3 linked regions of the Homo sapiens genome follow. The protein of the gene in region 2 interacts with the protein of the main gene of each other region in a biochemical or structural test. Each region holds a gene or a part of one and is shown on either strand. Other genes may lie near its edges.

Region 1 (3,743 bases), on a different chromosome or scaffold from region 2:
TGCATGGATGTATTCTCTTCGTATCATTATATGTGATACAATATATACAATGTATATATTGTATATGCATATACAATATAATATATATAATGCATATAAATTAATGTCTAATAAATCATACATTAATTTATGTTACAATCAAGCTGGCCCAGGAGTTTGAGATCAGTCTGGGCAACATAATGAGATCCCTATCTCTATAAAAAATGAATTTAACCAAGCATGGTGCAGTACACCTCTAGTCCCAGCTACCAGGGAGGCTGAAGTGGGAAGATTGCTTGAGCCTAGACGGTGGAAGCTGAAGTGAACTGTGCTTGTACCACTGCACTCCAGTTTAGGCCATGGAGTGAGAACCTTGTATCACAAACAAACAAATAAACCAGGAGTGCAAATGAAGACTTGGACTAGGTTATTCTCTAAAGAAGAGGGCAACCTTGCTGGTGGCAGCCAGAATGATCAGGCTAAGAGCAAAAATGAAATGAGGATGGTTGAAAGGATACAGCCATAAAGGAGTGTAATAGGCTGTGTGTTTAGAATAGAGGAGAGAATTGAGTATGGACTTGTAAATGGTGTGGATTCAGACTATGAGAACCATATTGACTATGTGAAGGCAAGAGGTGATCTTGAAGCGATAGTGTCAAAGTTACAGCATGAGATGGCTGTGCTAGCTTCTTACATATCAGCCTATGGCTTTGGGAAAATCACTTAACCTCTCCAAACCTCAATTTCCTCATTCATAGAATGAGGATAAAACAGCATAAGGACTGGTGAGAGGAAAAAATACACATGTAAAAAAAGCACAGCATCTAATAACTCCTCAAAATATGTTAGTTTTTACCTTTTTTTTTTTTTGAGATAGAGTCTCGTTCTATCACCCAGTCTGGAGTGCAGTGGCATGATCTCAGCCTCCTGGGTTCAAGTGATTCTCATGCCTCAGCCTCCTGAGCAGCTGGGATTACAGGCTGGCTAATTTTTGTATTTTACGTCTGGCTAATTTTTGTATTTTTAGTAGAGATGGGGTTTTGCCATGTTGGTCAGGCTGGTCTCGAACTCCTGGCCTCAAGTGATCCACCCGCCTTGGCCTCCCAAAGTGTTGGGATTACAGGTATGAGCCACCGAACCCAGCTAGTTGTTACTGTTATTGCTGCAGAAAAGACCTTGCTTCTCCAGTGACCATAAGGGAAGATGGTAATACAGAGGCTTGGATTGGAGGTAGAAGCAAAGGGAGCTAGCAGAATAGGAGAATTAGGTTGCCTCTTTCTGGCCTTTGGTTGGGGCACTCTTTAAAAAAGTGCCAGATCCAAGAGCCCAGGGGGCTGGCTGTGAGTGCCCTCATGTGGATCAGCTATGGTCAGACTGCTTCACGCCTGTGACCTGCCCTGTATAAATATACTGCCATGTATAAATAATGGCCCCATATATATGTAATCTGGAAGGATAAACATCAAGCTTAACACTGGCAACCTGCAGGGAGGGAAGTGGAATTGGGTGTGTATGTGTGTGTGTGTTTGAGAACCTGTATTTTATTACTCCGCACGTCTTTATTGTTTGATTTTTTTCATAATGAGAATGAGTTTGTGTGTTGGGTAAAAAAAAGAAAAAGAAAAAAACCCCACTAAAATCAATCTAATTACAAAAGAAGATGAATTAAAGAAAAGTACCGAGAGAAACTGCTTGTGATCCAAGTCCTGGCTCCCTAATGCCTGGCTGAAGCCCAGCCCACAAAGAGAACACTGGGTTAAAGGTCCTGGAGAAAAGATGGGAAAGGTTTGGTGTCTATGTGGTGTCTGCTAGCCCCATAAGGGTAAGGCACCTGGTAGACGGTTCCCAGCTTAATGGGAACTGCTCCTGTTTTCCAGGCACACAGTTCAGGGCTGGAAAAGTTCAACAAGTGCATGGAACATCGGAAACCTCCTGAAAATGCTAAATTTGCCCCGAGATGTCCCGAAGTCCGGCATATTTCTCTGGGCAGCCTAGAGGCTCAGGAGCCCAGCCCAGCCCAGCCCACCGTGCCCTCTCAGCCAGCCCTTCTTTGCCTTCAGCAGCCCTCCCTCTTCCTGAGTAGTGGCCCTTTGCAGGCCTGCGTCCCAGCCCCGCCCCTCTCTCTGGACGCATCTCTGGGCCCCATCATCACCCGGCGCCGGGCCCTCCCTCTGCCCCCCCCTTTCTCCTCCCTCCTTCCTTCCCTCCCTTCCTCCCTCTCTCCCTCCCTCCCAGCTCCTGCACCAGGAAACGGCCCGGATCCCGGCAGCGGCCTGACCCGTGAGATCCCTAACCTGGCAGGCGGGCGGGGTTGGAGACTGGCTGAGGTGGGGGTAAGGGAGGAGCTGGGCCTTTGGGCTGCACTAGGGGGAACCGGGAATAGAGATGGTGTCGGCAGGAAGCCCTTGGCCTTGGGTTTCCCGGGAGGACAGTCATTAAACATGGATTCGGCCACACAGCTGGTAGAGCGTTGGGGGCAGGGGCCTAGGCCCAGAGCTGCAACCCTAGCCCTTCCCAGGCCAGAACCTGATCCCTGGCCTTCCCCTCCTGGTTCTGATCTCCCCCTCCCCTTTCCAGGGCTCCACGCTGGCCAGGAGGATGAAAGGCCCCAGCTGGGGGCTCCTTGCCACCAGTGCTGTGTCTTAAGAGCTGCCATCCCGGCTGGGTGAGTGTCTCCTTCCTTTCTCTGTCTGGAGTAACCCATTGCGTCTCCCACCTTTCTCTTCAGCCCATCTGCTCCCCCTCATCTTGTGTCTCTGCCAACATCTTTACATCTTGCATTTGGGGAGGTCCTAAGACCCTTCCTCTAGCCAAGAAGGTGTGGACTAAGGAGACCCGGGGGTGGGGGTGTTGTAGGGGTGTCATTGAGCTGACGTTGTCTTATTGTGAAAAGAATCTAAAGTATCCTAAACAGAAAATTTACTTGTTTTACATTTAATTTGGCATATTAGGAATGTAATGGCCAGCCACTCACAGCCTAGTCTCATATCATGACTTAATTCCCTTGTTCTTGCCTCTCCCTGTCCAGTGAGTCCTGAGCATTTCCTCTCTCCTCCTCATCTCACTGGGTTGGTCAAACCAGAAGTGCTCCTTCTGATTCTCTCTTCATATATTCATGCCAGTCTTTCATCCTTGCCTCTTATAGCCGCCCGGATGGCGACCCCAGCCTCGGCCCCAGACACACGGGCTCTGGTGGCAGACTTTGTAGGTTATAAGCTGAGGCAGAAGGGTTATGTCTGTGGAGCTGGCCCCGGGGAGGGCCCAGCAGCTGACCCGCTGCACCAAGCCATGCGGGCAGCTGGAGATGAGTTCGAGACCCGCTTCCGGCGCACCTTCTCTGATCTGGCGGCTCAGCTGCATGTGACCCCAGGCTCAGCCCAACAACGCTTCACCCAGGTCTCCGATGAACTTTTTCAAGGGGGCCCCAACTGGGGCCGCCTTGTAGCCTTCTTTGTCTTTGGGGCTGCACTGTGTGCTGAGAGTGTCAACAAGGAGATGGAACCACTGGTGGGACAAGTGCAGGAGTGGATGGTGGCCTACCTGGAGACGCAGCTGGCTGACTGGATCCACAGCAGTGGGGGCTGGGTAAGAAGCTTCTCAATTGCCGCTCTGCACATCCTTCTGCAAAGCTGGTCTCCAGGGGGAAGATGGGGGCTCTGATTGGAGGCTGAGGCAGCTATGTTGGGAATGAGGTACGGGGCTGAGTCTCCCCGTCTGGATGGAATTAGATTGAGAGATGCCTGGACTCTGCACTCCAGGGCTGC
Region 2 (3,743 bases):
GCTGGAGTGCAGTGGTGCAATCTCGGCTCACTGCAACCTCTGCCTCCTGGGTTCAAGTGATTCTCCCGCCTCAGCCTCCTGAGTAGCTGGGATTACAGGCTCGCGCCACCACACCTGGCTAATTTTTGTGTTTTTAGTAGAGACAGGGTTTCACCATGTGGGTCAGGCTGGTCTCGAACTCCTGACCTCGTGATCCACCTGCCTTGGGCTCCCAAAGTGCTGGGATTACAGGCGTGAGCCACCACACCTGGCCTTTTTTTGTATTTTTAGTAGAGATGGGTTTTTGCCATGTTGGGTCAGGCTGATCTCGAACTCCTGGCCTCAAGTGATCCACCTGCCTTGGCCTCCCAAAGTGTTGGGATTACTGGCGTGAGCCACTGCGCCTACTTGCTTTTTTTTTTTTTCTCGAGGTAGAGTTTCACTCTGTCACCCAGGCTGGAGTGCAGTGGCGTGATCTCAGCTCACTGCAAGCTCCGCCTCCCGGGTTCACGCCATTGTCCTGCCTCACCCTCCCGAGTAGCTGGAACTAAGGCGCCAGCCACCATGCCCAGCTAATTTTTTGTACTTTTAGTACAGATGGGGTTTCACCGTGTTAGGATGGTCTCGATCTCCTGACCTCGTGATGCGCCTGCCTCGGCCTCCCAAAGTGTTGGGATTAAAGGCGTAAGCCACCGCACCCGGCCACCTACTTGCTTTCTTAGTCATGTGTCTCATTTATGTGTCCTAGCTGGGACCCCTGGAGGCCCTGCACTGGCCCACAGGCCAGGTCCTCAGGTCCTCTGAGGGGAGAAGAGACATTCCAATGGTTATCCCCCGCCTTCAGTTCCTGGCCTGTAATTTACCTCCTCCAAAGAGCCTCCCTGACAGACATATCTTGCCATAAACACCCAGCATGTTTCCCTACCTGCCTCTCTTTTTTTTTTTTTTTTTTTTTTTTTGAGATGGGTGCAGTGGCGTGATCTTGGCTCACTGTAACCTCTGCTGCCCAGGTTCAAGCGATTCTTCTGCTTCAGCCTCCCGAGTAGCTGGGATTACAGGTGCCTGCCACCGCGCCTGGCTAATTTTTTTGTATTTTTAGTAGAGACGGGGTTTTACCATCTTGGTCAGTCTGGTCTTAAACTCCTGACCTCGTGATCTCCCCAACCTCGGCCTCCCAAAGTGCTGGGATTACAGGCGTGAGCCACTGCGCCCAGCCCCCCACCTGCTTCTCACTCTGTCATTGCACTCTGAGTGTTTGCTCAGGGGAGTGGTTCTAAGTCTTTATCGGTCTGGGTAGAGGAGTGGAGTTGGCAGGAGTTGGGAGATGGCACAGAGCACAGTTCAAATAGACCATAGTAGGCGGGCCTCTGAATAATAACCCATAGTGCACTTGCAGCCTACAAAGCACTTTCTTTTTTCTTTTGTTATTATTATTATTATTTGAGACAGAGTCTCGCTCTGCCACCCAGGCTGGAGTGCAGTGGCACAATCTCGGCTCACTGCAACCTCCACCCACTGGGTTAAAGCAGTTCTCCTGCTTCAGCCTCCTGAGTGGCTGGGACTACAGGCGTGAACCACCACACCTAACTAATTTTTGTATTTTTAGTAGAGACGGAGTTTCACCAGAGTTTGAGGCCAGGCTGGTCTCGAACTTCTGACCTCAGGTGATCCACCTGCCTTGGCCTCCCAAAGTGCTGGGATTACTGGCGTGAGCCACCACGTCTGGCCTTCTTTTATTAATTTTTTAAATTAATAGAGATGGGGTTTTGCAATGTTGCCTAGGCTGGTCTCGAACTCCTGAACTCAAGCAATCCACCTGCCTCAGCCTCCCAAAGTGCTGGGATTACAGGCGTGAGGAATCACGCCCAGCCACAAAGCACTTTCACATTTTTTAATTTTATGTGATGTTCACACAGCCACTGGGAGTCAGGGCTAGGATTATCCCCTCATAAAGGTGAGGACACAGGCTAAGAGAGTCGAAGGCTGGCTAGACAAGGGGAGAGACACAGAGCTCCGCTGATCATCACTGGACTCTGGATTCCACCAAACCTTTGGAACCTTCCAGCCTCAGGCCTCCACAGCTTCACAGAAACTGGGCAAGTCTTAACTCTCTAAGCTTCTGTCTTCTCACCTAAGCATGTTTGGTACTCACCTCCCAGGGTGGTTAGGAGGATAATAAGGGAATGTCTCGGCCTACACGTAAGTGCACCATCAATGGTACCTAAAAACGTCAACAGTTCCAGACACTGTCTCCAGAGAAGGCTCTGTGGGGGATGCGGACATGTAGCGGCCAAGTTCTTGTTCTCCAGGGGCTCTGCAGGTCCCTTGCAGAGGAGGCATTCAATCCTGCCGGCTGTGGCAGGACACTTTCCTATCCAAGGGATTGGCTTCCTCCGATGTAGAACAGACACTATGAAATAGCTACCAACCCAGGGGTTGCCAGGAGGCCCCATGAAGGTCTTGCACTAATAATACTTCTTGCTTTTTTTTTTTTTCTTTTGAGAAAAAAAGCCTGTCGCCCAGGCTGGAGTGCAGTGGCGTGATCTCGGCTCACTGCGACCTCTCCCTCCTGGGTTCAAACGATTCTTCTGCCTCAGCCTCCCGAGTAACTGGGACTATAGGCACGTGCCACTATGCCCAGCTAATTTTTGTGTTTTGAGTAGAGACAGGGTTTCACCATGTTGGCCAGGATGGTCTCGATCTCCTGACCTTGTGATGTAACTAGTATTTCTTATGCCCTTATTTTGTGCTAGGCACAGGGCCTCACCCATTATTGGCACTCGGTAAGGATTCGTGGGATTAATGAGAAGTTAACCTAAATCTTCACCAAAGGCCCCTGAGCTTCCCCTCGATTCACATACAAGGGACTGGGGCTCTGAGAGGTGGGCTGTGATGCGCCCCTGGAAGACCCACGAGTGGGCCTGCAGAGCTGATGGGGAGGGTTCAGGCAGGGCCAGGGGCTTAGAGGAGCTGAGATTAACGTCGCCCCCCTACCCACTGACCCTCTGCAGGCGCTGGGGCTGTGGAGATCCGGAGTCGCCACAGCTCCTACCCCGCGGGGACGGAGGACGACGAAGGGATGGGGGAGGAGCCCAGCCCCTTTCGGGGCCGCTCGCGCTCGGCGCCCCCCAACCTCTGGGCAGCACAGCGCTATGGCCGCGAGCTCCGGAGGATGAGTGACGAGTTTGTGGACTCCTTTAAGGTGAGCGCCAGTCCCCAGCGTGCCAGGACCTGAAGTACCAGGCCGCCCCCCGCCGGTCTGTCCCTGCCTTGTCCCAAGGCACGCCCGGATCTGGAGTCCCACGACCCCTCCCCAAAGCCGTCCTGTTCCTTCCTAGCTCCAGAGCATTCTGGGATTTGTAGTCACAAGACTTCCCCGCCCCCACTCCCCAGCTCTTCCCCCGCCTGGTGTGTGTGTGTGTGTGTGTGTGTGAGTCACAGGGCATGCTGGGATCTGTAGTCTAGATCCCACTCCAGGCGTGTGTGTGTGTGTGTGTGTGTGTGTGTGTGTGTGTGTGAGAGTCACAGGGCATGCTGGGATCTGTAGTCTAGATCCCACTCCAGGCGTGTGTGTGTGTGTGTGTGTGTGTGTGTGTGTGTGTGTGTGAGTCACAGGGCATGCTGGGATCTGTAGTCTAGATCCCACTCCAGGTGTGTGTGTGTGTGTGTGTGTGTGTGAGAGAGTCACAGGGCATGCTGGGATCTGTAGTCTAGATCCCACTCCAGGTGTGTGTGTGTGTGTGTGTGTGTGTGTCAGTCACAGG
Region 3 (3,743 bases), on a different chromosome or scaffold from region 2:
ATCACCTTGCCGAAAGTGCCCTTGCCCAGCAGCTTCAGGTACTCAAACTCGTTCATGGTCTATGGGCAGGCACCAGGGTCAGCAAGCGGCGCTGCCAACAGTGCCCAGCTGGTCGGCATGCGTGGGGTGGCATGAGGGGCCCCAGAGTCGGAGGCAGAGCCAGGAGAGGCGTCCACTTCACACCTGGTGGCCTACTGGGCTCAGCGGGGAGTCCAGGCTTACAGGGAACACATGGCTGCGGCCCCAGCTCAGAGCATGGGGTTCAGGGAAGGGTGGGGTAACATTGCCCAAGCCTGGCAGGGCTCAGCAACCCCAGTTTTCCTCTGACATGGGGAAGAGGACCCACCTGGGAAGCAGCTGCGCCCTACATGGAAAACCGGCCTAGGTGGAGATGCCGTGGAGTGCTGAGTGTCTCCTGGGCCGAGCTGGGACCCCATGACCCACCCAGCCCTCCACAGTCCAAGGCAGCCCCAGGCACAGGCAGAAGTGGGGACAGGCCTCACCACGCGGTGCTTGGGCTTGGCCAGGGACACCTCCATCTCTTCAGCCCCTGAGTTGTCACTGGGTGAGCCCGACCGGAAGTCCATCTCCTCCTCCTCCTGCTTCTTGAGGCCGTCAGCCACAGTCTGGATGGCGGTTGTCCACTCCTCCCTGCAGGAGGTCAGGTGAGGCTGCAGGCCTGTACCAGATCAGGAGCTCCACCCCACGTCTTTCACCCACCCGCCAGCCTCACAAGCGTGGTTCCACAGCTGTCGGGGTTCCCAGAGACAGCCCTGAGGAGGCCACCACTTGACCTGGTCTGGCCACATACACTCAGGGTCACGAAGCCCTCTTGGACGTGGGGGACACCCAGGCTTAGCCCCCCAGCAGGACTCTGTCCCCACAACCGGACTCCAACCCCCAGCAGGACTCCGCCCCCCAGCAGGACTCCGCCCCCCCCAAGCAGGACTCCGCCTCCCAAGCAGGACTCCGCCCCCCAAGGAGGACTGGCCCTCTCCACCGGGTTTTTCTTTTTTTGAGACGGAGTCTTGCTCTATCGCCCTGGCTGGAGTGCAGTGGTAAAATCTCGGCTCCTGCAGCCTCTGCCTCTCGGGTTCAAGCGATTCTTGTGCCTCAGCCTCCCAAGTAGCCGGGATTACAGGTGTGCACCACCACACCCAGCTAAGTTTTATATTTTTAGTAGAGACGGGGGTTTCACCATGTTGGCAGGCTAGTCTCAAACTCCTGGTCTCAAGTGATCTGCGCACCTCGGCCTCCCAAAGTGCCGAGATTATAGACGTGAGCCACTGCACCCGGTCCCTAGCCAGTTTTTATCTCCAGCCTCAGTTTCCCCACCCAAACCCCACAGGCAGGACTGGGCCAGTTTCCAAACTGGGCTCTGAGGAGGGCCTGGGAGCACTGGGGAGTGAGGATGGCTACAGGCAGAGGTGCCAGCACCCCGCCATCCCCGTGTCCCTCCTAAGCGCTGGGGCTGCCCAAGTGCCTGGCCTGGCCGCCACAGCCCACGTACCGCTCCTCAGGAGTCTCCACATGGAAGGTGCGTTCGATGACAGTGGTCCACTGCAGGCAGCGGATGATGAAGGTGTTGGGCCGGGGCCGCTCCGTCTTCATCAGCTGGCACTCTGCGGGCAGGCAGAGCCTCTGTCTGCGTGCATCCCCCTGCCCCTCCCAGGGCCCTCACCACAGCCCCCGCTGCACCAGCCAGCTCCCCTTGCATACCACCCACCAGGTCCTGGGAAGCCCCATCTCTTCCTCTCTCCAAGCCTCAGTTTCTCGCCTCACAGAGTGGGGCTAGGACCCCTGTTCCAGCTCAGACACTCTACTCCAGGCTGAGGCAGCCACACAGGGCATCTGGCCCGGCGTCAGGTCAAACCCCCACCATCGTCCACTCCTACAGTCCTTCCTTCAGTCTCTGAGCCCCGCCGTGCGCCAGGCCTCAGAGGATGAGGGGTATGGAGATCCCACAGAGGGGCTGGCATGAGGGGGGCACCCCAGAAACCTGCTTGTCCCACCTAGTGTAGAAATGTCCTGCTTTTTTCCCAACCTCACCCTGAGTACCTGGGAAATACAGCCACCTGGAGCACACCCACACCTGGGGCACACCCACACCTGGGGCACAGGCACACCTGGGGCACAGCCACACCTGGGGCACAGGCACACCTGGGGCACAGCCACACCTGGGGCACACATACATCTGGGGCACACACACACTGGAGGCAAAGCCACACCTGGGGCACACGCACACCTGAGGCACACACCTGGGGCACACGCACACCTGGGACACAGCCACACTGGAATACACAGACATCTAGAACACATCTAGACACCTAGCCACATCTGGGGCACACGAACACCTGGGGCACACGCACACCTGGGGCACAGCCACACCTGGGGCACAAGCACACCTGGGGAACACATACCTGGGGCACAGCCACACCTACAGCACGTACACCCTGAGGGCTGTGGGAACGTGCGGGGCCCTGAGAGGTGTGAGTGAGTGGAGTGTGTAGCCGCTGGGGCTCCGTGGCAGGCTCTGGCCCAGCCTGTGCAAAGCAGGAGGAGGCTGAGGGGCCAGTGGGGGGCCTCTGACATTCCAGCATCGAGGCCCTGGCAACCACAAGGGGGCCTGGCCAGGCAGCAAGGAAGCTGTCTTCCAGGCCTGGGGGCCAGGAGGGGGCTCGGGACCAGCCTGGTGGGGAGGGTGGCCTGTGTCAACACAGGCCAGAGAAGTGGAAACCGGTGTGAAGCCCCGGCACACCCACCTCCCACTCGCTCCTGGATGGTCCGATCTGCCCCAGTATGCAATCCCCAGGGCCAGAGTCTCGAGCCCACTGCCCCGGAACCGTTCCCCGGAGAAAAGCCCCGGACAGAGGCCCAGCACAGCCCCTGGCCCCTGCCCAGCTCTGCTCCTTGGCCAGGCGCTCCAGGCCACTCACCTATGGCCTAATCTGAAGGCCCCAGCCTTGCCAGCTGCTCAGGCAACACCTCCAGCTGGTACCCACCCGTGTGCCTCTCCAGAGAGCTCCCCACCTCGTTCCTTCCCAATGCCTCGGCCTGGCGAGCACACCCACAGCACCCACCCCCAGCAAGGCCCTGTCCCAGGTGCCACCAGGCACGCTGCTGGCACCCAGCCTCTCCCTGATCCCTGAAGCCCCCAGCCCCAACCGAGGAGACACTGGGGAGGGTGTGGGACAAGTCACAGTGAGTCTCCTGCATGGTTACGAGGCTGTCAGGAGACAGGGGTGTCTGCCTTCCTGGTCTCCCCTCACCCCTGGGGTGCCCTACTCTATCAGGCTGCCCTGCTACTGCTGGCTTGAGGCTGGAAGAGCCAGGGAAGGAGACCTCGGCTTACAGGAACCAGGTCCTGGTAAACCCCACCCCAACCCCAGCCCCTCAGCCTGGGGCTTTGCAGGGCAAGGCCTCTGCCCCTCCCAACTAGAAGCTTCAGGGCACGGTTTGCTGGCCACAGACCACCTAGCAGCCAGGGTGCCAGACTGACCCCACCTCCCCTTATACGTGCAGGCACCAAGGGTGGGAGTCCTTCCCTGCCCAGCCTGGGGACGGATTCCCTGCATTTAACCTCCTCCCAGACCCTGGACCAGAACCTGGGGGTCCAGCAAGTTCAAGGGAGTCGGAGGACCGCAGGCCTCAAAGAAAGGAGGGCAGAGCTACTTGGAGGGGAGGGGCCGATGCAGCACATGGGGATGGAACCTAAGGCCAGCCCCTGGTGGGCACCTCGCTCT

The links.
Region 1: the proteins of BAD (region 2) and BCL2L2 interact in a biophysical measurement, tested with the Homo sapiens proteins (4 studies listed by BioGRID and IntAct, with this or other methods).
Region 3: of the proteins of BAD (region 2) and AKT1, one has a biochemical effect on the other in vitro, tested with the Homo sapiens proteins (6 studies listed by BioGRID, with this or other methods).

The regions. Positions count from the first base shown.
Region 1 is NC_000014.9:23,304,636-23,308,378, forward strand, and holds the start of BCL2L2 (bcl-2-like protein 2), read left to right. Parts: upstream 1-2,197; 5' UTR 2,198-2,259; exon of another isoform or gene 2,260-2,312; intron 2,313-2,556; 5' UTR 2,557-2,644; intron 2,645-3,124; 5' UTR 3,125-3,132; coding exon 3,133-3,564; intron 3,565-3,743. Other genes in the region: BCL2L2-PABPN1 protein, read left to right, coding at 3,133-3,564. UniProt on the Homo sapiens protein: Promotes cell survival. Blocks dexamethasone-induced apoptosis. Mediates survival of postmitotic Sertoli cells by suppressing death-promoting activity of BAX.
Region 2 is NC_000011.10:64,271,051-64,274,793, reverse strand, and holds part of BAD (bcl2-associated agonist of cell death), read left to right. Parts: intron 1-2,990; coding exon 2,991-3,181; intron 3,182-3,743. UniProt on the Homo sapiens protein: Promotes cell death. Successfully competes for the binding to Bcl-X(L), Bcl-2 and Bcl-W, thereby affecting the level of heterodimerization of these proteins with BAX. Can reverse the death repressor activity of Bcl-X(L), but not that of Bcl-2.
Region 3 is NC_000014.9:104,775,149-104,778,891, forward strand, and holds part of AKT1 (RAC-alpha serine/threonine-protein kinase), read right to left. Parts: intron 1,623-3,743; coding exon 1,511-1,622; intron 652-1,510; coding exon 504-651; intron 60-503; coding exon 1-59. UniProt on the Homo sapiens protein: AKT1 is one of 3 closely related serine/threonine-protein kinases (AKT1, AKT2 and AKT3) called the AKT kinase, and which regulate many processes including metabolism, proliferation, cell survival, growth and angiogenesis.